Regions from separate parts of the Homo sapiens genome. Here all the other regions are linked to region 2. The links come from fine-mapping of genetic effects on gene expression. A gene starts in region 2. Each other region holds a variant in brackets. All regions are shown on one strand. Distances are from middle to middle. Region 1 has its middle 260 kb from the start of CPHXL. Region 2 holds the start of CNTNAP4 (contactin associated protein family member 4). Region 3 overlaps CNTNAP4 (contactin associated protein family member 4). Region 4 has its middle 250 kb from the start of CPHXL.

Evidence for each region. PIP is the estimated chance that this variant, and not a neighbour inherited with it, causes the effect.
Region 1: its variant is the best candidate, but not a certain one, in a credible set for the expression of CNTNAP4 in spinal cord (GTEx, PIP 0.90).
Region 3: its variant is the best candidate, but not a certain one, in a credible set for the expression of CNTNAP4 in cerebral cortex (GTEx, PIP 0.77).
Region 4: its variant is the best candidate, but not a certain one, in a credible set for the expression of CNTNAP4 in hippocampus (GTEx, PIP 0.50).

Annotation. Positions count from the first base shown.
Region 1 is chr16:75,982,752-75,987,908 of GRCh38, reverse strand. No RefSeq gene overlaps it. Among named protein-coding and RNA genes, the nearest start is that of CPHXL, 260 kb to the right of the region's middle. The variant G/A (reference allele first, on the strand shown) is at 2,217.
Region 2 is chr16:76,274,756-76,279,912 of GRCh38, reverse strand. It overlaps CNTNAP4 (contactin associated protein family member 4), which reads right to left and starts at 2,512. Exons shown (of 24, transcript NM_033401.5): 1 at 2,166-2,512. The coding sequence starts at 2,250.
Region 3 is chr16:76,558,783-76,563,939 of GRCh38, reverse strand. It overlaps CNTNAP4 (contactin associated protein family member 4), which reads right to left. Exons shown (of 24, transcript NM_033401.5): 24 at 3,183-5,157. Among named protein-coding and RNA genes, the nearest start is that of LINC02125, 74 kb to the left of the region's middle. The variant G/A (reference allele first, on the strand shown) is at 2,103.
Region 4 is chr16:75,970,209-75,975,365 of GRCh38, reverse strand. No RefSeq gene overlaps it. Among named protein-coding and RNA genes, the nearest start is that of CPHXL, 250 kb to the right of the region's middle. The variant A/T (reference allele first, on the strand shown) is at 3,084.

The sequences.
Region 1 (5,157 bases), 290 kb after region 2:
GTTCAAACCTTCACATGTGCCTCTGAACCAAAAATAAAACTTTTTAAAAATATATATTCTATTAAACCTTCTTGGTAATAAAGTTGGTTCTAGCCACACAGAATAATGGATTCTAGCCACACAGAATAAATAAATACATACATAAGCTCCTCTTGTCTGACTTCTGCCTCTTCATGACTTCCCACAGCACTAGGAGTATAATCCTATAAGACCTTATATCTTCTGGCCCTGCCGTCCTTGTCAATACCATCTTGTACAACTTATTTCCTCGCTGACTGGGCCACAGACTCATTTTTGCTCTCTTATAAAACACTCTAACTTAGGTTACAGTTTGTCCACAAGGACTTCAATGTAGAGGTACAGAATCCTTCTCAGGCCATATTTAGTTTGCTTTAATGTCAGTTTCAGGTGTTCTGTTATTAGCAACAGAAACTAAACTAAGATGATGGGATGATACAATATGTATTCTTTTGTGACAGGCTTCTTTCATTTAGTAAAATGTTTTCAAGCTTTATCCAGGTTGTAGCATGCATCAGTCCTTCATTCTTTGTGATGCTGCTTAATATTTTATCATCTGGATATACCACGTTTAGTTTATCCAACATTTGATGGATGGATTTTTTCCATTTTTTGGTTATAGGGTGCAAGTTTATGTGTGGACATATATTTTCATTTCTTTCAAGTAGATACCTAGAAGTGGAATTGCTCTGTAAAATACTATTTTGAGGAACTGCCAAATGGGCTGCACCATTCCACATTCCCATCGGCAATGTATGAGGGTTCCAATTTCTCCACATTCTCTCCAACACTTCTTATTGCCTGCCTTTTTGGCATAGCCATTCTGCAGATTGTCATTGTGGTTTCGATCTGCATTTCTCTAATGATTAATAATGTTGAGCATTTTTTCATATATTTTGTTAATTTGTATATATCTTCTTTGCAGAAATATCTGTTTAAATCCATTGTCCATTTTGTAATTGGGTTGTCTTTTTATATTTTATATTAAAAGCTATTTAGGCCAGGTACGGTGGCGCATGCCTGTAATCCCAGCACTTTGGGAGGCTGAGGCAGGCAGATCACCTGACATCAAGAGTTCCAAAGCAGCCTGGCCAAGATAGTGAAAACCCGTCTCTACTAAAAATACAAAAATTAGCTGGACATGGTGGCGGGCACCTGTAATCCCAGCTACTTGAGAGGCTGAGGCAGGAAAATTGCTTGAATCCAGGAGACGGAGGTTGTGGTGAGCTAAGATCATGCCACTGCACTCCAGCCTGGGTGACAGAGCAACACTCTGTCTCAAAATAAAAATAATTTTAAAAACTATTTATATATTCCAGATATGATTCTCTTCCTAGATACATGATTTACAAATATTTTCTCCCATTCTTTGGGTCATCTTTCTTGATAGTGTCCTTTGAAGCACTAAATTTTTAATTTTAATGAAGTTCAACTAATTAATTTTTTTGAGATGGAGTCTCACTCCATCACCCAGACTGGAGTGCAATGGCACAATCTCGGTTCACTGCAACCTCCGCCTCCTGGGTTCAAGTGATTCTCCTGCCTCAGCCTCCTGAGTAGCTGAGATTATAGTCGCATGCCACTACACCCAGCTAATTTTTGTATTTTTAGTAGAGACGGGGTTTCACCATGTTGGTCAGGCTGGTCTCGAACTCCTGACCCCATGATCCGCCTGCCTCTGCCTCCCAAAGTGCTGGGATTACAGACATGAGCCACCACGCCCGGCCTAATCTTCTCTTTTATTGCTTGTATTTTTGGTGTCATAGCTTAGAAATTATTGCCTAACCCAAGATCATGAAGATTTCTTCCTGTTTCGTTTTGTGGGTTTTGTTAACTCTGTATGAGAGCATGAGCTCTCATAGTTAGGTCTGGGTCCCATATTTATTTAGTTTTTGCATGTGGTGGTAGGGGTCCAAATTTATTCTTTTGCATCATGTGGATACCCAGTTGTTCCAGCATCATTTGTGAAACAACTATTCTTTTTCCCATTGAATTTGCTTGGCTTCTTAGTGAAAAATCAATTGACCATAAATGTATGCGTTTATTTCTGGGCTTTTGATTCTATTACATTAATTTATATGTTTATGCCTGCCAGCACCAAAGTGACTTGATTTCTGTAGCATTGTAGTAAATTTTGAAATAGGGAAGTATGAGTCCTCTAACTTTATTTTTCCTTTTCAAGATTGTTTTGGTTATCT[G/A]TACTGCCTTACATTTCCATATAAATGTGGGGATGAGATAGTTTCTACAAAAAAAAAAATCAGCTGGGATTCTGATAAACATTGTGATGAATCTGCAGATCAATTTGAAGTGTATTACCATCTCAATAACATTAAAACTTATGAATCATGAACATGGAATAACTTTTCATTTATTTGGGTTGCCTTTAATTTCTTTCACCAATATCTTACAGTTTTTAGTGTACAAGTCTTGCAATTCATGTTTAAAATGTATTCGTAAGTATTTATTTTTGATACTATTGGAAATGGAATTGTTTTCCTAATTTCTCATTCAGATAATCCATTGCTAGCACATAAAAACACAGTTTTTATTGATCTTGTATCCTGTAACCTTGACGAATTTGTATATTACTACTTTTTTTTTATTATACTTTAAGTTCTAGGGTACATGTGCACAATGCGCAGGTTTGTTACATATGTATACATGTGCCATGTTGGTGTGCTGCACCCATTAGCTCATCATTTACATGAGGTATATCTCCTAATGCTATCCTTCCCCCCTCCCCCCACCCCACAACAGGCCCCAGTGCGTGATGTGCCCCTTCATAGACTGGATTAAGAAAATGTGGCACATATACACCATGGAATACTATGCAGCCATAAAAAAGGATGAGTTCATGTCCTTTGTTGGGACATGGATGATATTAGATACTTTCTAATTTTTTCTTTCCTCCTCACAACAATGGTGCACAAAGGTTGTTATTATGCCATTTTTCCAGATACTGCCTGGAAAAAGAAAGAGGAATTCTGAGACTCAGAGATTAAGAAAAGTGCTTGATAAACAAAGTTAGAAAGTTGTAGAGGGTATAAATACCTCACGCAGGTTCTAATATGTCATGTGCCCTCCAATGAACCTTTTTCTTCTTAGGCTTAGCAAATTACTCTCAATATTACCTTATGGGCAAATAAGAATTTTGACAATTTCTGCACCTCAGGTATGTCACCTCTGTTTTTTTTACTGTATAAATCTGTAAACTATCACCAAATGGGTTTCTCTAAAATGACTTCATGCTTAGTGAAATATACTATATGATTCATTATTCAGAAGTAGAAACTCATGTCCTAAGAAAGGCTTTTTCTCTTTGTACAATTGTTTAAGTCTCTGAAGGGCTAAATATAAATGATCCTTGAAAATGAGGATAGAAGAAGGGATTTTTTTAAATAGTATTTTTAATCTGTTAGTGATTCAATTTGCTCCGTATTAAATGGTATTCTGCATATCGAGGTAACTTATAGAACTGTAGGCGTGTGATATGCTAAAAGCACTGAAGATTAATGAAAAGCCAAATGACAACACTGATAGGAAATAAATAAAACTCTTGTTTTCTCAGTTTTTATTTCAGGCAATGAATTGTCTTAGATTCCAAAGTCAAGATGGTACGGGACTCTATATAGTAGTGACATTAGACTTAAGTCCTATTTTATTTCACTGGATTTCAACAGCTCTTTAAAGCAGCCCCATAACAAACAAATCCCTTGGCGATATCCACTTCCACGCTGTATACTGACTGAAGTCCCTTGGAAAAGGAAATGTGCTGCATTACAATTTCAAAAATAGCAAGAGATTGAAAATTAATGCACCAAAGAGCATGTTGTTTTGGCCTTTTGTCTAAAGGGCAAATGCAGACAAATCAGTCTAGAGCTGTGTGCCATATATAGGGATTTGCTTCCTACACAAAACTCCAAAGAAAACAGTGCATTCAAATGGTAATGAAGAGAGGGCCTGGATGCAGATAATGGTGTATTAAACTTGGATGAGCTAATTGTGCATTTTCATGTGAATCAGCCTCCTGCTAAGACTCATTAGGAATGCACATTAAAGATATAGACAAGTGCACCGCCTTTTAATCAAGTGTCTTATTTCTAACAACACTATTAGTATTGTGAGCATTCTAGTAAGTGAAAATTTTGACTGAAATTTAATTGTGCAGCCCAGAAATTTGATTCTGTTTCAAAGCTGTAAGTATATCTTCATGTGAGGGTGAAATAAGAAGTGGAGGGAAATAGAGGGTGGACTAGAATAGGAATTGATCAATTACTTTTTTTTTTAATCTTAAAAACTAATTATGCTGGCCTATTGAGCTGGATTCTTACTTGGAATCCATACAAATCCTTACAAAATATCAGTCTACAGATGGTGCTGGGGAAATGACAGTTTAGACCACAGCAGCATTGCTCAGGAAAAGTGAGAAGCATTTCTGCAAAAGGGTGATGAAAAACAGGGGGAGCCCAGGGCTCCTGCCACTGCCTCAGATGGAGAGATGCTGCATACAAACAATCAGCACACAGAAGTAGAGGAAAATACTCATATGATTATGATTAGACACATAGCAGGAGAGCAAAACATGATTTAGCTTATTAAGCAATTGAAATCCAAGTGGATCAGCCTTCAAATTCTAAAATTTCTTGCAGAAGTATGTTCTTTTTCTTCTCCCAATTCATATTATACCACACTTGTAAGAAGCAAACACTCAAAATTTGTTTGCATTTGATTCTAATGTGTATTAGAGATTTTAAAATTTTTAACACAAACACAAAAGATTTATCTTTCTAAGCTATGTCTTAATATCGAAGTCACTTTTGTGGGCTTTTGGAATTATGGCACACTGATCACTTATCACTGCCCTACTCTCATTCCCAACACCGTCTCTGGAGTAGGTGATTGACAGAGACAAGAATGCTGTTGGTGGACCATTGAAGGTATACAGAAGCCATAAGTCCTGCTGGGATGTCAGGGAAGGAAATCAAGTCAGGGCTTTCTTCTCCAAGGGACCTGAAGTAAAAGATAAGGTTTGTCTCTCCTCGATCTTGGGGAGCTGCTCATGAAGAGTCCAAAGTGGGTGCAGTTTTGGTGTCTCTGGAGTATGGGCAGCACATGTCTGTCTGCTTCTTGTGATCTTTA
Region 2 (5,157 bases):
TACTTTCCACCATGGCTTGGTACAAGTAGACCTTACTTCTTCCAAAAAGAAAATACTTCTTAAATATTGAAAAATGAAATAGAAATTGAGAAATGAAATATTTTCTTTTACACATACTGCTGCAAATCATATTGTCAAAATATTCACAATAAATTACTGAGTGCAACTTTAATTATATAAGGTCATTTCATTTTATTTTTGACACTTGAAGAACAGTCAACTCCACATGCATGGTAAGCAAGAACTCCAACTTTAAATGTTTTTTATAATGAAAAATCGTATAGGTTTTGCAAGTTCATCAGATGTTTAAAAGAGCATTAGACTACTTCCTTAACAAACCAAGGCTGAAAGAATATAGAACCAGCACTGAAATTTTAAGTGTCAGTGAGGGATCCAACCAGAGCCAAGCAGACATAAATATTACACTCTCCTCAGATCTCTTTCAGCACCTTTTCTTTTCTAAGAAGATATATGGCAAAAGAAAGCTATTTAATGTTGATGTACACCCTACACTTTTTATTGAGCTTCAAGAAAACAAGCAAACATAAACAACTAGCAGCCCAAATAATTAGATTAATGTATTTTAAACCCAACTACAGGCAGTCTAGTGGAAAGACTGAATGGAGTACAGGCCAGATTTAAGCTCTGCTTTTCTTGAGGGAAGGATGCTTGGGGTGATGTGCTTTACATTGTAAGAGTGACCTCTAGTGCTTTTCTTTTTGGTTGAACTTTAGTGGTTGGAAGATGAATTACTTATGCCTTTTCTACAGAACTTCCATTTGTGTGTGGGTGTTGTTGTTATTGTTTGCTTGTATGATGCAATGTTTTTCTAATGCTACCATTATAAGATTCCAAGGTTTTGACTAGGTGAAATTATACATTTTATTGACTTATGAGATTATCACAACACTCAAACTAAAGTTGAATCTGATGTGCAGCACCTGAAGTGAGGTTCCTTCTTTCAGAGTGATGGATACCCTGTGACATTAAATGAGCCCATTCTGAACTGAAACACGAAATCACGGGAGCCAGGTACTGTGAGGGGACATTTGACTTGTGCCCATGAGTTTGTCATGTTTTTCACATATCAGAACTCTTAACATAGTCAAGTGATATGCCATAGCAAATGTCTGATTACTGCCTCTGTTCCCCAAATCTAAGCCTGATGATACAGCAGCAACATAAATTCCTGGACAGGCCTCATAGCCAGTTCTTGGAAAGCAAATGAGCTTTTCCTTTAAAATCCAAGAAAAAATAAAAAGTTGTATTTGCCAAGCTTGTTTGTCATTAATCAGGAGGGGAAAATTCTCCCATTTAGAGAATTTAAGCCAAAGATAACTTTTAAAACTTTTTCTATCTCTAATAAAGAGTGGATGAAGGGAGTCTGCCAAATTATTATGGATGATATCTAAATTATAAATAAGATTTCAATCTTCCCTAAATAGGTTCTATTTCATCAGAACATTCAATTACAAATTTATGCAGTTAAGCATTCAACCACAAAGGAATCCTACTTTTGAAAGACCACCTGACTGGTTTTCCTTTAAGCGAAATGTAGGAAGAGGCTCCTCTTTCCGGAGAGCGCTAAGTCTCATTCTCTTAGCAGCGAGGGCACAGCTCTTAATACTGAGACTCGCCTCAGCCAGTGCTGGTGCTCCTGAAGCCTGCAGTACATTTCAGTTATTAGCCTGCATTATTTTAAAGATGCAGGCAGCTACTGGTCTGCCCAATTGCAAACTTCAGAAATCTAAGCCAATGCAGCATAATGTAAAGTCTGCCAGTTGTTTTCCTCTTAGACATAATTCCAATAAAATTCAGTAGTTCTTTAAAAAAGAAGAAATGAAGATATTCACAGGCTATTCCCCCGATAAGATGCTAATTTCATGTTTTACTAGAACTTGGGCATTCTCAATGAATACTCAAAGACCAGAGGGTAAGATTCTGCGAGTAGACAAAAAGAGAAATGACACTTTGCCTATTTTGACCAGACCAAGAGGAGAGACAAGTGTTAACCGGTCACATTGGCAAGATTTTTAAGTGATGCTTGGTTTACAGCAATACGCTTTGCAGCAATCCCAGCTGCAAATAATCATCATCAAACCAACAGAATCAAAGTTTTGCAGAGAGCCCCCCAGCAAGTTTTAAATCATTTGCTGTATACTTACAGGAATTCCCAGCTTCGACTCTGTTCCAATTTTGAGTAGATAACAGAAGTAGCGTCTTGAGGACAGCTCCCGTGACAGATCCCATGTTCACATTTATTGGGCTCCCCCAAAAGATCTTGAGAGGCTCTCAGAGCGCTCCAGTCCTCTTCTCAGTAGCTCTGCCAGCTCTGTCTGGGTCTTCAGCCCCTCTAGGTCTCTGTCTCTCCCCCTCCCTTCCTCCTCACCTCCCTCCGTCTTTTCTTCTTCCCTCCTCCCTCTCTTCTCTCTCCCTCTCTCTCTCCCCGTCTCTGTCTCTCTCTTTTCTCTCTCTCTCTCACACACACCTCCCTGACTCCTCACTGAAAAGCACTCAGCATCTTTCCTAACAAGCATCCACACCGCCGAGGCCACGCCCACTCCTCGCAGCAGCGGTCCCACAAATTGGCAGCAGCATCCTTCCTTCCAAACACACAACAGCGCTCGAGCTCCGCTGCACCCAGAGGCGCGGCCTCCCGTTCGTGGGCCTCCTTGGGGCTCCCTCCCTTCTCTTCTATTTTCCAATAATCCTTAACCCTTTTCTCCCAGCTGGAGGTGTGAGTGGGGGAAGGGACAAGGCGGTGGAGCCTTCTGATTTTCTGGAGGTCTTGCATTTGCAAGAGCCAGAAAACACACTGAGCCATTCCTGATTATCCGGGAGTGCATCCAGGTAAAATTGCATTATGTTTCAAAACAAAAGCATAAAATAAGACAGAAATAACTAAGCAGCATTGGGAAATTGTAGCTAAAACCGTCCTCAGGGAAAATACTTGCTGTTGTTTTTCTCTGTTTCTATAAAACTGTACTCTTCAGCGAGGGTGCCAGGATTTTATTATGGAAATTCCCCACATGGGAACAGACATTCCTGCTTAGCAGATATTTAAAATCATCTGGTAGTAGTCTGCAAGAAATTAACATTTCTTATTTTAATGCTTCAGGTGTATAAATCCACAAATGAAATGCTTTGGCTAGATTTATGTTGATGAATGCATCATGCTGTGAATATGAAGTACCATTCTATAATCAAAATTTTTAATAACATTTCCAAAAAGGCCCAAAGTAGGAAATGAGGGAATACTGAAGAAAGGGACCTCCACCACCACCACATACACACATGCATACACATTCACACAAACACTGAACAATGTGACGATGTAATTCAGGTGACTTAAAGGAGAGAGGAGTAAAGTTGAATTTGGAAGATCAATGATTAAAGAAAAATTACTCTTTGAATGGCTGGTCCATGGATACAACTGTTTCTTGAATGGAATTTTAAAATGTCTAAATAATGGAGTTACTATCACATAACAAGAAGCATGTCACATGGTTCATAGCAGATAAATAATCTATTTAAAATAAATGTCAAGATGTTTTACTGATAATGTGCTAGATTTTATACAAATGGAAATCCTGGAGTTCTTAAGTGCCTCTTGGTAATCACAAATTGGAAGAAACATAAGCCTTTAACACCACTTTCTTATGGAATAATGAGAGTGGGTTTGTCAAAGATCAGATAGGTTTGTCAAAGAGTGAGAAAATGACAGAAATACCCGTAAGAACTAAACATGCTTGTTTAGCTCATGCCTGCAAACAAAGCAGAATGCATCTTTTTTCTTTTCCTGTTTTACAAGAGAAAACAAGAACAGAGAATTTAAATGATTCGAAGAGGTCATAGAGTTAGTAATAAATGCTGAGGACTGGATTTGGCTTTTCTGACTCCAGTTTTACTGCTCTCACCCTAGGACTTATTGCCCCTAAATCAGAGTATACCTCCTTCCTGACCCTTGTCAGTGGCAGCAAAAACCTTAGGCCCTAGGAAAACACAGCAAACACTTTGGGAGGCCAAGGTGGGCAAATCACTTGAGGTCAGGAGTTCGAGACCAGCCTGGCCAACATGGTGAGATCCCATCTCTACTAAAAATAAAAAAAATAGCAGGGTGTGGTCGCAGGCAACTGTAATCCCAACTACTTGGGAGGCTGAGGCAGGAATTCGCTTGAACCCGGGAGGCAGAGGTTGCAGTGAACCAAGATTACACCACTGCACTCCAGCCTGGCCAATAGAGCGAGACTCTGTCTCAAAAAAAAAAAAAAAAAAAAAAAGGATAAATACAATAAAATAAAGAAAGGTCATGGGTTGAGTGTTTATTCTGTGTTCCTAGACTTGCATTCCTGATTTTATTTTTTCAATCATATGCTAAGTAAAAGCAGATATAAATTAACAGTTTATGTTAACTAATTATTGAAGGAGATTAAATTTTACTGAACACATACTATATGCCATTTGTTATCTAATTGAATAATTATATCAGTCCTTTGAAGAAAATATCATGTCTGTGGGACGGTTGTGGGCTCTCCAGAAGAAAAAAGTTGTCTCGTTGTTACAATATTGTATTTAATTGTTCTCTTAAAACAAATTAGAGAATGCATCTTAAATGGATAAGTACACATAGCAAAAATGAAAAATAAACATTTTATAACAATAATAACTTCTTTGGGACAATGTATAAATTATTATAGTGACCAATACTGGCGGATTTTTCCATATCAATGGGCTACAGTAATAGAAGGAATTGGGGGCTGGCCCTCAATAGAAGACCTGAGCATTTCAAGTCACTGCAAAACCTGTCTCTGCCTGATGGCTGCAGAGGGGTAGAGAGTTGCCTAGACAAATGAAACAGTGAGTGCTTGAGATATGGTAAACAGAGAGGCCTCAGCCGGGCGCGGTGGCCCACGCCTGTTATCCCAGCCCTTTTGGAGGCCGAAGCGGGCAGATCACGAGGTCAGGAGATCGAGACCATCCTGGCTAACATGGTGAAACCCCGTCTCTACTAAAAATACAAAAAATTAGCCAGGCATGGCGGCAGGCGCCTGTAGTCCCAGCTACGTGGGAGGCTGAGGCAGGAGAATGGCATGAACCCAGGAGGCGGAGCTTGCAGTGAGCTGAGATCGAGCCACTGCACTCCAGCCTGGGCGACAG
Region 3 (5,157 bases), 280 kb before region 2:
CAGGTCACCTGGCGTAGAGAAACACAACTTTCTAAAAAGGTTCCAGGCTTGCTATTGGGCCCTGCTAGAGACGAAATGCCTTACATCACATTGGCACAGCAAATATGGGCAGAAATGCCCATAATGAGCTGGGTTCTGTCAGGTCCACCAAGTCATAAAGTTACCTGGGCCCAGCAGGAAGCCATCATCAACTGGAAATGATGCATCTGGAGCCAAGCATGAGCAGGTGCCAGCAAGCTGCATAAGCCAGTAGCCCAGACCCCTGTGATCCACCACTGTCCCAACAGTACCTTTCCCTCAGCTTACACCTAGGGCTGCATGAAGGGTCTCTTACCATCAACTGCTGGAGAAGGGAAATATCTTATCTTGGCATGGATGGGTTGACTTGGAATATGGGTGCAAGGTGAACATGGAAAATGCCACCACTACAGTGCCAATTAGGGTGGCATCACAAGATGGCAATGAGGAAAAGCCCTCCCAATGGCAGAACATTTGCATGGCACCCATGCTCATTCACTCTGCATGAAACGAATAGACTGAGGTTATAATTTATATATACATATGAAATTATATTATATGCTATATGGACTTATGGGCAGTAGGTTGGTCAGTTTGTCAGAGACCTAGAAAGAGACTGGAAGATTGGAAACAAGGAGGTCTGAAGTAGAAGCATGTAAATGGACCTATGGGAGTGGTCATAAAGCATAAAATTATTTGCCCACCATGGAAAGAATCATGGAAGAATCACTAAACAACAATTAGTAGATAGAATGACCTATGCATGGTTGGCATTAAACCAACTTCAATCACTGGCCACCAAAGTGCTGGGGCAATGAGCATATGAACAGAGTAGCCATGCAGGCAGGGGTAGGAGCTACTCATAGACAAGCAGTGAGCATTCCCGCTCATCAGGACTGATCTAGCTACTACCACTCCTGAATGTCCTAATGATCAACAGAGACCAGTGTTCATCCCCCAGAATAATTTCTCTCTACCAGCAGATAAATTCTGTGGCAAGCTGAGTACATCAGATCCCTCTACTCTGAAAGGGACAGAGATTCATTGTAGTAAGAATTATGACTTCCTTCAGGTTTGGGTTGTCTTTACTGCCTGCAAGCCATCAGCCACCACCACCTGTTGAGGGTCTACAGAGCCCCTCTGGTGGTGTGGAATGTGACAGGACCAGCATATCTCATGGCAATGTGCCCACTCCCACTTATCCTTTGCTGTAATGTGGATCTTTCACCGATTCAAGATTTTCTGAGAGGGTATGTGAGAAGTAACTGTCTGTAACCAACAATAAGTGAGGGAGGTGAAATTACACTCTGAGGAAGGGAGAAATGTGCTTTGCATGTTGATACTTCTTTGATCAATTTTAATGGTAATTGCAAAAGTACAGCAGATATACCCTGAGAAGGTCATAGGAGACAAGGGTTCAAACTCCTTGTAGTGTTGTCAGCTGGTGTGGATGGTAGAGGAGGAAAAAGATGAGTACAAGCTACAACTGAGAGACTACCTGCAGTGGTAGGGTCTGTGGTTTATTCCATACTACTCCCTCCTGTCCAAGATATGAAGCTCACTAGAATTCTGAAGGAGCTACTCCCAGAACTCATATGAAGCAGGTGGATCTGGTTAGCACAAGGGGGAACCTCAGAGATGCTGTACTGTGCCACTGAGACTCCTATTTCAGGACTCAGCAATTTATTCTTCTCGGCTGCTGGTGATGTTTGTCCTCCCTCTTCAGGAACCACCTAAGCTGAAAAGAGCCATTTGTCCAAGTTCATGCCCACCTCATCAAGAAGTTAACATCCAATGCCTGGTCAATGCAGAAGTATAAATTCCCATTTCATCCACCCTAACTCTGTATGTCACTAAAGGACCATGTCAGCAGGGTCGGCTGATCCCTTCTTGTGACCATACCACAGCTTTACTTCTCCATCTGCCCCACCCCACATCATTCTGTCTTCAACAGGCGTTGATCTCTACAGTAGCCCCTAACAGATTTCTTCCAGCATAATCTCTGTCTCAAAGTTTGCTTCCCAGGGAACCTAACCTGTAGCTGCTGGTTATTTATAAACACAGAGACAGTGAAAGACACAGTT[G/A]AAAGAGTTTTAAGTGTTGGGAAGGGGATCTGGCAATGGAAAGATATTTTTTGTAAGCTTTCTTGAGCTATTTGATTTTTTAAGTATGTGCATGTATTTTTAATAAATAAAGACAATGTTAAAATAGAAAAACAGATTTTTTAAAGATTGTACTGGAAAAGTTATTATACTTGTAGTCAGATTTATTTTCCATCCCCTTTTATTTTTATTTGCAAATCTTCAAAGCCAAGCTCCAGCTTTCTTAATCACATTGTAAGTACACTATGTTGTTCCCTTATCTTAATTTCTTATTATTTGTTGCACACACAAATGTGCTCACCCACCCACATCCCCAACACAAAGACATTCAGCTTCTGAACTTTTTCCTCCACGTTACCACTCTCTCCCATCCAGACTTTGGAAAAGCGAAAGACAACCAGAATATATTGAAGGTATCTAGTCGATTTGTCATTTAGTTGATACATGAGTTTGAAAATCAAACAATTCGCTTGAACATGCATTGATTTAGAATGTGTCTAATTTATCCTTCTATCAGGAGGAAAATATTTGATGATTCCCTCAGTGACATCTAATTCCTATTGTGGATTTCACAAAGCCTACATAAAAGTGCTCCAGTGATAATAATTGTCTCTCCTGCAGTCAAGGGTCATAAACCTACCAAATATTTTTAAAAGAAAGGCAAACCTATCAACAGCAATGACCTATCAAATAAAGGTTGATGTTCATTTAGAACAGATAATGGATAAGCTATAGAACTATAGATCATTGTGGACAAAGAAAGTATCAAGATCTTTCAGATTTTTCTACACCACTAAATAACTGTCAAAATTCCAGGTCTTGGAAGATCAATATCATGTGGAGTAAAAAAGGACATTGTAGTCACATCTTCAACACTTACACAATGTTACATGTCCCCTTGGGAATGTCAATTGATATATCCGCATCCTGGACTTTTCATCTGTAAAACTGTTCACACTAAATCATGTCAGTGCTGTCCAATTCTATGAGTGACTCTGTTGTTCTGAAGGACAAAAACATCTACTGAAAGATAATTTTGAAATGATTGACTTCTGTTTTGCATTTTAGTTCAAAAATGCATTTTATTAATGATAAAATAAGAGATTACAAATCAGGAAATTAAAGTCATGGCATAGGATGTGTCAATGCATTTCCATGCCATAATGTTGAGTCTCTAGCAGTGCAGACCACAGAGGACTGTGAGGCTTCACCAATAAACCTCCCTAGAGTTCAGCTACCAATGAGGTTAATACCGCTACTAAATAACATGAACATCTGCAAAAGATTCAGAGATATAATGATGTTTGCACTCAGCTTTGCATCGAATAAATAATGCCATTTCTATGTTAAATCCTTCCCTTGTCACCATAGATCTTCCAATCAAACAAAGAGTATACCATCTACCAACATAGGTCCTTAGTCCTTCGTAAACTACTATGTTAATTCAGGTTCTTAAGATTTAGTCAGGCATTTGCAGAAACATCAATATGGATATAGTGCTATGAGAAAAGAGAGGCAGGTTTTATAAGAAGAGTTAACAAGGAAAATATAGAAAATAAGATGATAGTAATGCTAAATTTACATATTTCCCGATTCTTCTGGTGTAGACAAACTAAGAAATCCAATAGTTACTTGGGAGGCACTTGAAGGTGTGAGTATGTATAATAGAGTGCCTTTATTGTATGATTGGCTTGCAGAATTCAAAGATAGTTCCTTGTATGCATGGTCTCAAGATTAATTATTGTAACAGTTCCATAAGGTTATTGATCATTCTTTGATCTCCTAGTGTATAATACACCCTAATCAGAATGTACCATTCAGCAAGTTGGATTGATTCTTGGTAATTTTTGAGAAATTCACCCCATCGTTTCAGACGAGAAGTGTCTGGAATGACAAATTCACAGTAGATCATTTAATATGCTATCTCCCCTTAGAGTGTGCATTGTTTAATTATTGATTGTGTAGATCACTGATGGTTGCAGCTCATATTTCAAAAAGTATGTACTGGAAGTCTATGCACAGCAAAATGTACACCTAAAGGGGTATATGTTTCAGAATGGGAAATGGGGCTCTATACTTCAATTTGTCTCTTTTTTGGTAATATATAAGATGATTCGTGAAGTATAATCATTGAAGATCAAGGCGAAGTTTGTGATAAACTTCAGAAAAACAGAAATGTAAACCAATAAAGGACTGATCTAGGTTTGGGCAAAATAGTCTCATAAGTATATTTCATTTGAGGTATTACAGTTGTAAATTAAATAATAATTTTTTGCTGTGTTAAGAATTTTTTTTAATATATCAACAGTTTAGTTGAAAACATTTTACATTCTTTGGGAAACTGGCATTACTCAGGGTCTTAAGTACTGTCACCATCAAACAATGGTAGCAAATTAATTGGAAAACTTTTTTTAAAAGGAAAGACATTACATACTAACAACCACTGCACTTTCTGAGTCTTGTTAAATACAACTTGTATGTTCAGAGTTGAAGTCTGAGACTCAAAACCAAATGTATTCAACATTATTAAGAAGAGACAAATAGAATAATGAGCAATACAAACAAAGCAAAGACAGCAAAACATTTTTCAAGACTATTGATGTATTGTATTGAATATAATACAGAGAAAGGCAAAGGGGCTTTATTATGCTTGTGGCCACTGAAGATGCAAACACCGGCCACACAGGATCTGAGAAGCATTTCCAGGTCTATGAATAACACCACGAGGAGACAAAAGCAAACACAGCAAATGTTCTCAAATAAAGCAAGGACATTATAGTCCAAATTTAATTTTTACCTCTAACAAAACTTATGTATTACATGGTTAAGAGACCAAGGCTACAGTTTTCACATGTAAAAACTGTAGCCATTAAGCAGGTTAAACTTGTTTTAGATCATACCAGAACAGTTGAAAATTAACAGCAATATCTAATTTCTTGTTCCATAGAATGAATGCTATGAGAAATATATCACTGGACGAGGCTTCCTGGAGCCACCCCAAGCCTGTACATGGCAAGATGGCAGTGCTGCAAGCCCA
Region 4 (5,157 bases), 300 kb after region 2:
AAAACTGATAAACTAGAGACCATCATATCATTTATGTTACATAAGTTCTTTTTTTTTTTTTTTTTTTTTTTTTTTTTTGAGACGGAATCTGGCTCTGTTACCCAGGCTGGAGTGCAGTGGCGCGATCTCGGCTCACTGCAAGCTCCGCCTCCTGGGTTCACGCCATTCTCCTGCCTCAGCCTCCTCAGCAGCTGGGACTACAGGGGCCCGCCACCACGCTTGGCTAATTTTTTTGTATTTTTAGTACAGATTGGGTTTCACCGTGTTAGCCAGGATGGTCTCCATCTCCTGACCTCGTGATCCGCCCACCTCGGCCTCCCAAAGTGCTGGGATTACAGGCGTGAGCCACCGCGCCCAGCCATACATAACTTCTTTTTCAAGTTAAACATCAGTAAATAAAGATATAGAGTTATAATTATGTGAGTATGTTTGATCATAATTTGACTTACAACAGTCAACGCTAAAATATCTAAAAATATATTCCTCAAGCCTTAAAAATGTTTATGAATGAGCGAACAAAACAAAGGCAACAAAAACCATATAGCATAAGATATCAAAGAAAGCACCAAAACAGAAATTACACTGAGCATTATTAAAATTAAAATTAAAAGCATTATAAAATTATAAAAAATTATAAAAAGCATTATAAAAATTAAAAGCAGAAGAAGCAATATATCATAGTAAGTGGAAATGAGATAAATTTCCTATTAAGCCTCTGACTGACCAATAGATAACACAAAGTGTTACCACACCCATCCAGGCGACTTAAGACTAAGCCCTCAATTGATGGAAACACCTTAAAGTTGTATCAAGAGCCCCAACAGAGAAATAGGCCCCTTTTTTGCAATAGTAAATTGTATTATACTAGAAAAATTGGTAATTCTCTGTAATGGAAATCTCGAGACAGCAAATACAAGGCCGTCTCAAAAGAAAAAAACCCAGAAGCCAATCAGCTGCTTGAAAAAATCATGTAGCGTAACAATACCTTGCAGTTTGCAATGACATTACCGAAGTTCTAGCTCATAAGAAAGCTAGAAAACTAGAAAATAGACAATAAAAAACAAGTTAGAAACAAAAGTTACTCTTCTAAAAAGAGTAGGAAGCAATGTGACTCAAACTATTCAGTTCAACTAGCTGTATGACTTGGAAAAAAATTACCAACCTTCCAATCTTCAATCATTTCATTGTAAGTATAATAAAAAGTTACTGCTCTCTCAACTTTTAGCTCTTTAAAATGTTACATCCTGTAAGCCAGTTTGCATTCGATATGCACACACACAAATACAGAAACACACATGCACAGTGGGATCAAAGTAGGTGAGTGATGTCTCTTGCTTACTTTTTTCCCTAAAGATTGAAAGGTTCTTTAAAACTTTATCCACACATAGATATCCGGGAAATGGGACTAATAAGGCAGAACTCACAGAGCAGATTTGCAGATTAAATAGGATTACAATATAAAACACTAAGCATCATACTTTGCACAGTTAGTGGTCACTGTTATCACCATTGGTTCCCAATGCCGTGGTCAGCCATGTGAATTACTGAGGGTAAGTTTTGAGCTGCGCAAAGGAACACTAGCATGTTGTCATTTGTACATTTGACTTATGCAAATCCAAGTGTAGGTGCTTGAGGAAAAGAACAGAGAGCGAGTACTGACTATCGACTTTCCACTCCTATCAATGAACACATGCCACAGTGGAAGTACAACCCTAGGAACAGAATGTGCTGTTTTTATCAGTCAACCCTTCTGTCTCCAGTATTGTGAATATCTCAGCGCACAAGTATGATTCTGGGGTTAAATGTGTACATTTTCATATAAGATAAAGCCAAAACGCAAGGCAAAAGTTCATCTGATAGTCAAGTGAAGACACAGTGATTGGATCAACGCTGTAGAAAAAGCTGTTTGGCTTTGTTGGTCTTACTGAGGTTATTCATGTCCATAGTATGTATCTTATGAGTGATTTGTGGGAATATTCAAGAGGAATATTTTACTATATTCCAGTTCCACCTTACAGGCAGACTTTAGAAACCTCAATTGTATAGGATGTACATTCACTTTATAAATGTGAGACGAAGAAAGGGAAAAGACAAGAATTATTTTTAATGGCCCCAATAAATGTTGGGTTTGCAACAAAACTCAAATCCAGCCCAGAAGCATAAACAGCAAGATGAATTGATCAGAGTGTGCCAGATGAAAGCTTAGCTAGTTAATTATTATATCATCTTAAGTGTAAAGACCAAAGATGTTGCAGTCATCAAAAGCAAACTTGATCACTAACCAGAGAGTGGTTCACGGTAGAGGGAAATGAGAAGAGGATCTGGTCTTGGGAAATGCCAACGACATCAACCCATGGACTGGAGACATGGCTAAAGATTCAAGTATCATGGGATTAAAATGCAGGGATGGTCATTTTATAGGCATATGCCTCTTTGATGTGTGTGTGTGTGTGTGTGTGTGTATGTATAAGAAAGAGAGACACAGACAAAGAACAAGATGGGGTGTTAGGGGCAGTAGGAAACTTGAGGAGAATACTAGAAACTGCCAGCAGATGATACAGCATTGAACATTTAGGGTTCTGCCACCTGAGAGGTGACAATCTAAGCTATGTGATTCTCAGGTACAGGAAAGGAACCTTAAATGCTTATTTGGCTGGGCTCTTACTGGTCTCAATTAGGGGGGCCACTGGTAACTACTAGACAGGATTCATCAGGAAGGACCAATCTGAGGAAATTGAAAAGTAGGAAATTAAACTAACGCAATCCTCCTCTCCCTAGTTATTCATTTAAAAGTTTGCCTCACTCTCAGTCACATGCATGGTGTCCAGGGCAATTTTCTACCCAGCTGGCCATGAGCAGGAGTGACTGTGCACCCTGAATGTCAGAGATACTTCTTCACAAGAATCTGTGAAGACTGCCAGCCCTGTGCTTTCTTTTTAAATCCCTCTTCCCAGAATATCCCCTGCCTGACAGTTGCTGGCTGATGGTGGGTACAGTGGGGAGAGTGTGGATGTGAGGCTCTGTGAGCGACACTCTTTACAGGCTCTCACTGTGAGAGGAAGGAACTGTGCATGGAGGCAGAG[A/T]TTTCCACTAAATGTCCATTGGTCCTACTTCAATAAAGGCTTCAGACTTAAAGCCAAGAGAGAAACAGTTATAAAATCAGCTCGATGAAACCAGCTACATCTCCATGAAAAGGGCTAACTTTCTGTACTGTGGATAGGACCTTTGAATATCTTCAGATTTTAAAAATACACAGGTAGCAAACACTGCTGGTAGCTCTCATTCTCCATTAAAGGGAGAGCAATTACGTCAAAATGATAATGCAATGTGTATCCTCAACTCATATTATCTATTTGCTGTCCTTTGCGTGCAAAAAGATATGATAGAAAATAGTAAGAGAGAGAATTGCTAAGCAGCTGGTTAATCATGGCCTGTGCAATTATTATATTTTCATTCTGGCTCCGAAAAAGGAAACACTTAAAATGAATGAAATATGCATTGGTGCCGCTAGCAATGAAATTAAGCCACCTTATTAACTGTGCAATTTTTACAAAGGTTCCGAGAAATACTCATTAGGCCTTTTGTGTGAATTGAACTTCATCTCCAGCCCCATCTTAATTCCCAGAATATAAAGTAACACTCACTTAAACATCTCGGTTTTACTAAGAGATGACAAATAAAATACTTGGAGATTTTGGAAATAGAATACACATTAAGAAAAAAACAAGGTCCTTATTAGCTGTTTCATCTTTTATTTAGTTTATTCCTTATCGTGATCCTCTTATTGTTACTATTATCACTATTACTATCACTACCTTCAAATCATTATGCTAGGTTATTGCACAATATATCATTAATTCTTTAAGAAAAGCAGGCAAGACAGGAATTACCATTGTCATTTACTAAATAAGAAAAGAGGTTTCAGAGCACAATTAACTTTCTGAAGCTCCCATTACTAATAAGTCTGAACAATTCCAAAGCCCACATTCATCCCATCACTCATATTTCCATATACAAACTTGTCAAGAATCATTGGGAAAATGCATTTATATTTTACTATTATATGGGTCAATCTAATATTACTAATGTAACTTGAGACATTTTCATTAAATGTTCACTATCTTGCCATAAACGTTTTATAAATATTAATCTCAAATTATTAAAGTCTCTAAATACTTAATATTAAAGCCTCACACATTATTATTGCTCCTTCATCTTAAGGAAATCATCCAAAGAAATAGTCATAAAATGAGAATGTTATTGGTACTTTTTTATCACCAGGTTTTTAATCACTTTGAAATGATATTTGGCATTTTCAACTTGGAAAATGGAGCTATATGTTCAATTGCAGAGATTATGACTAAGAGGATTAACAGTAAATTCACAGCAAAGGAAGCAGCTACCTAGAAATAGTGTTTGATCTCAGGAATTTTCCACCTCCCTGCCACATCCTACAACATACCAGGCAAAAATAGAAGGAAAAATAATACAGGTATAAAACAGCTACCTGTACAAATTAAATTAAAAACAAAACTTCTATCTGAATAATAAGTATAATTATCTATCTTTACATTATATATATATATAAAATACTTGGTGGTTTAGAAGATTTTTATGAAGATTTATATATTATATATTATATATATAATATAAACCATCTTTGGTGCTTTAGAAGATTTTTATGAAGATTAATATATATAATACATATAATTTTTATATATTATATTTATAGATTTATAGATACAGATTTATATATAATATTTATATAGAGATTTATATATCTATAAAATATATATTATATATAAATATAGATTTATATATAATATTTATATATATAGATTTATATATATATTTATATATAATATTTATATATAGATTTATATATAATATTTATATATAGATTTATATATAGATTTATATATAATATTTATATATATAGATTTATATATATTATATTATATATATATAAATCTTCATAAAAACCTTCTAAACCACCAGACATCTTCTGTACCTATTAAAAAAAGAGTCTGCAAATATAACAATAGATCAAATCAAGGCTAATTAATCTCTGTACCACTAAATTGGTTGAACTCCAGTCAACTACGAGTTGACAACATTTCCATTTTGGACATCTCTACCTGCTCAAATATCCCCTTT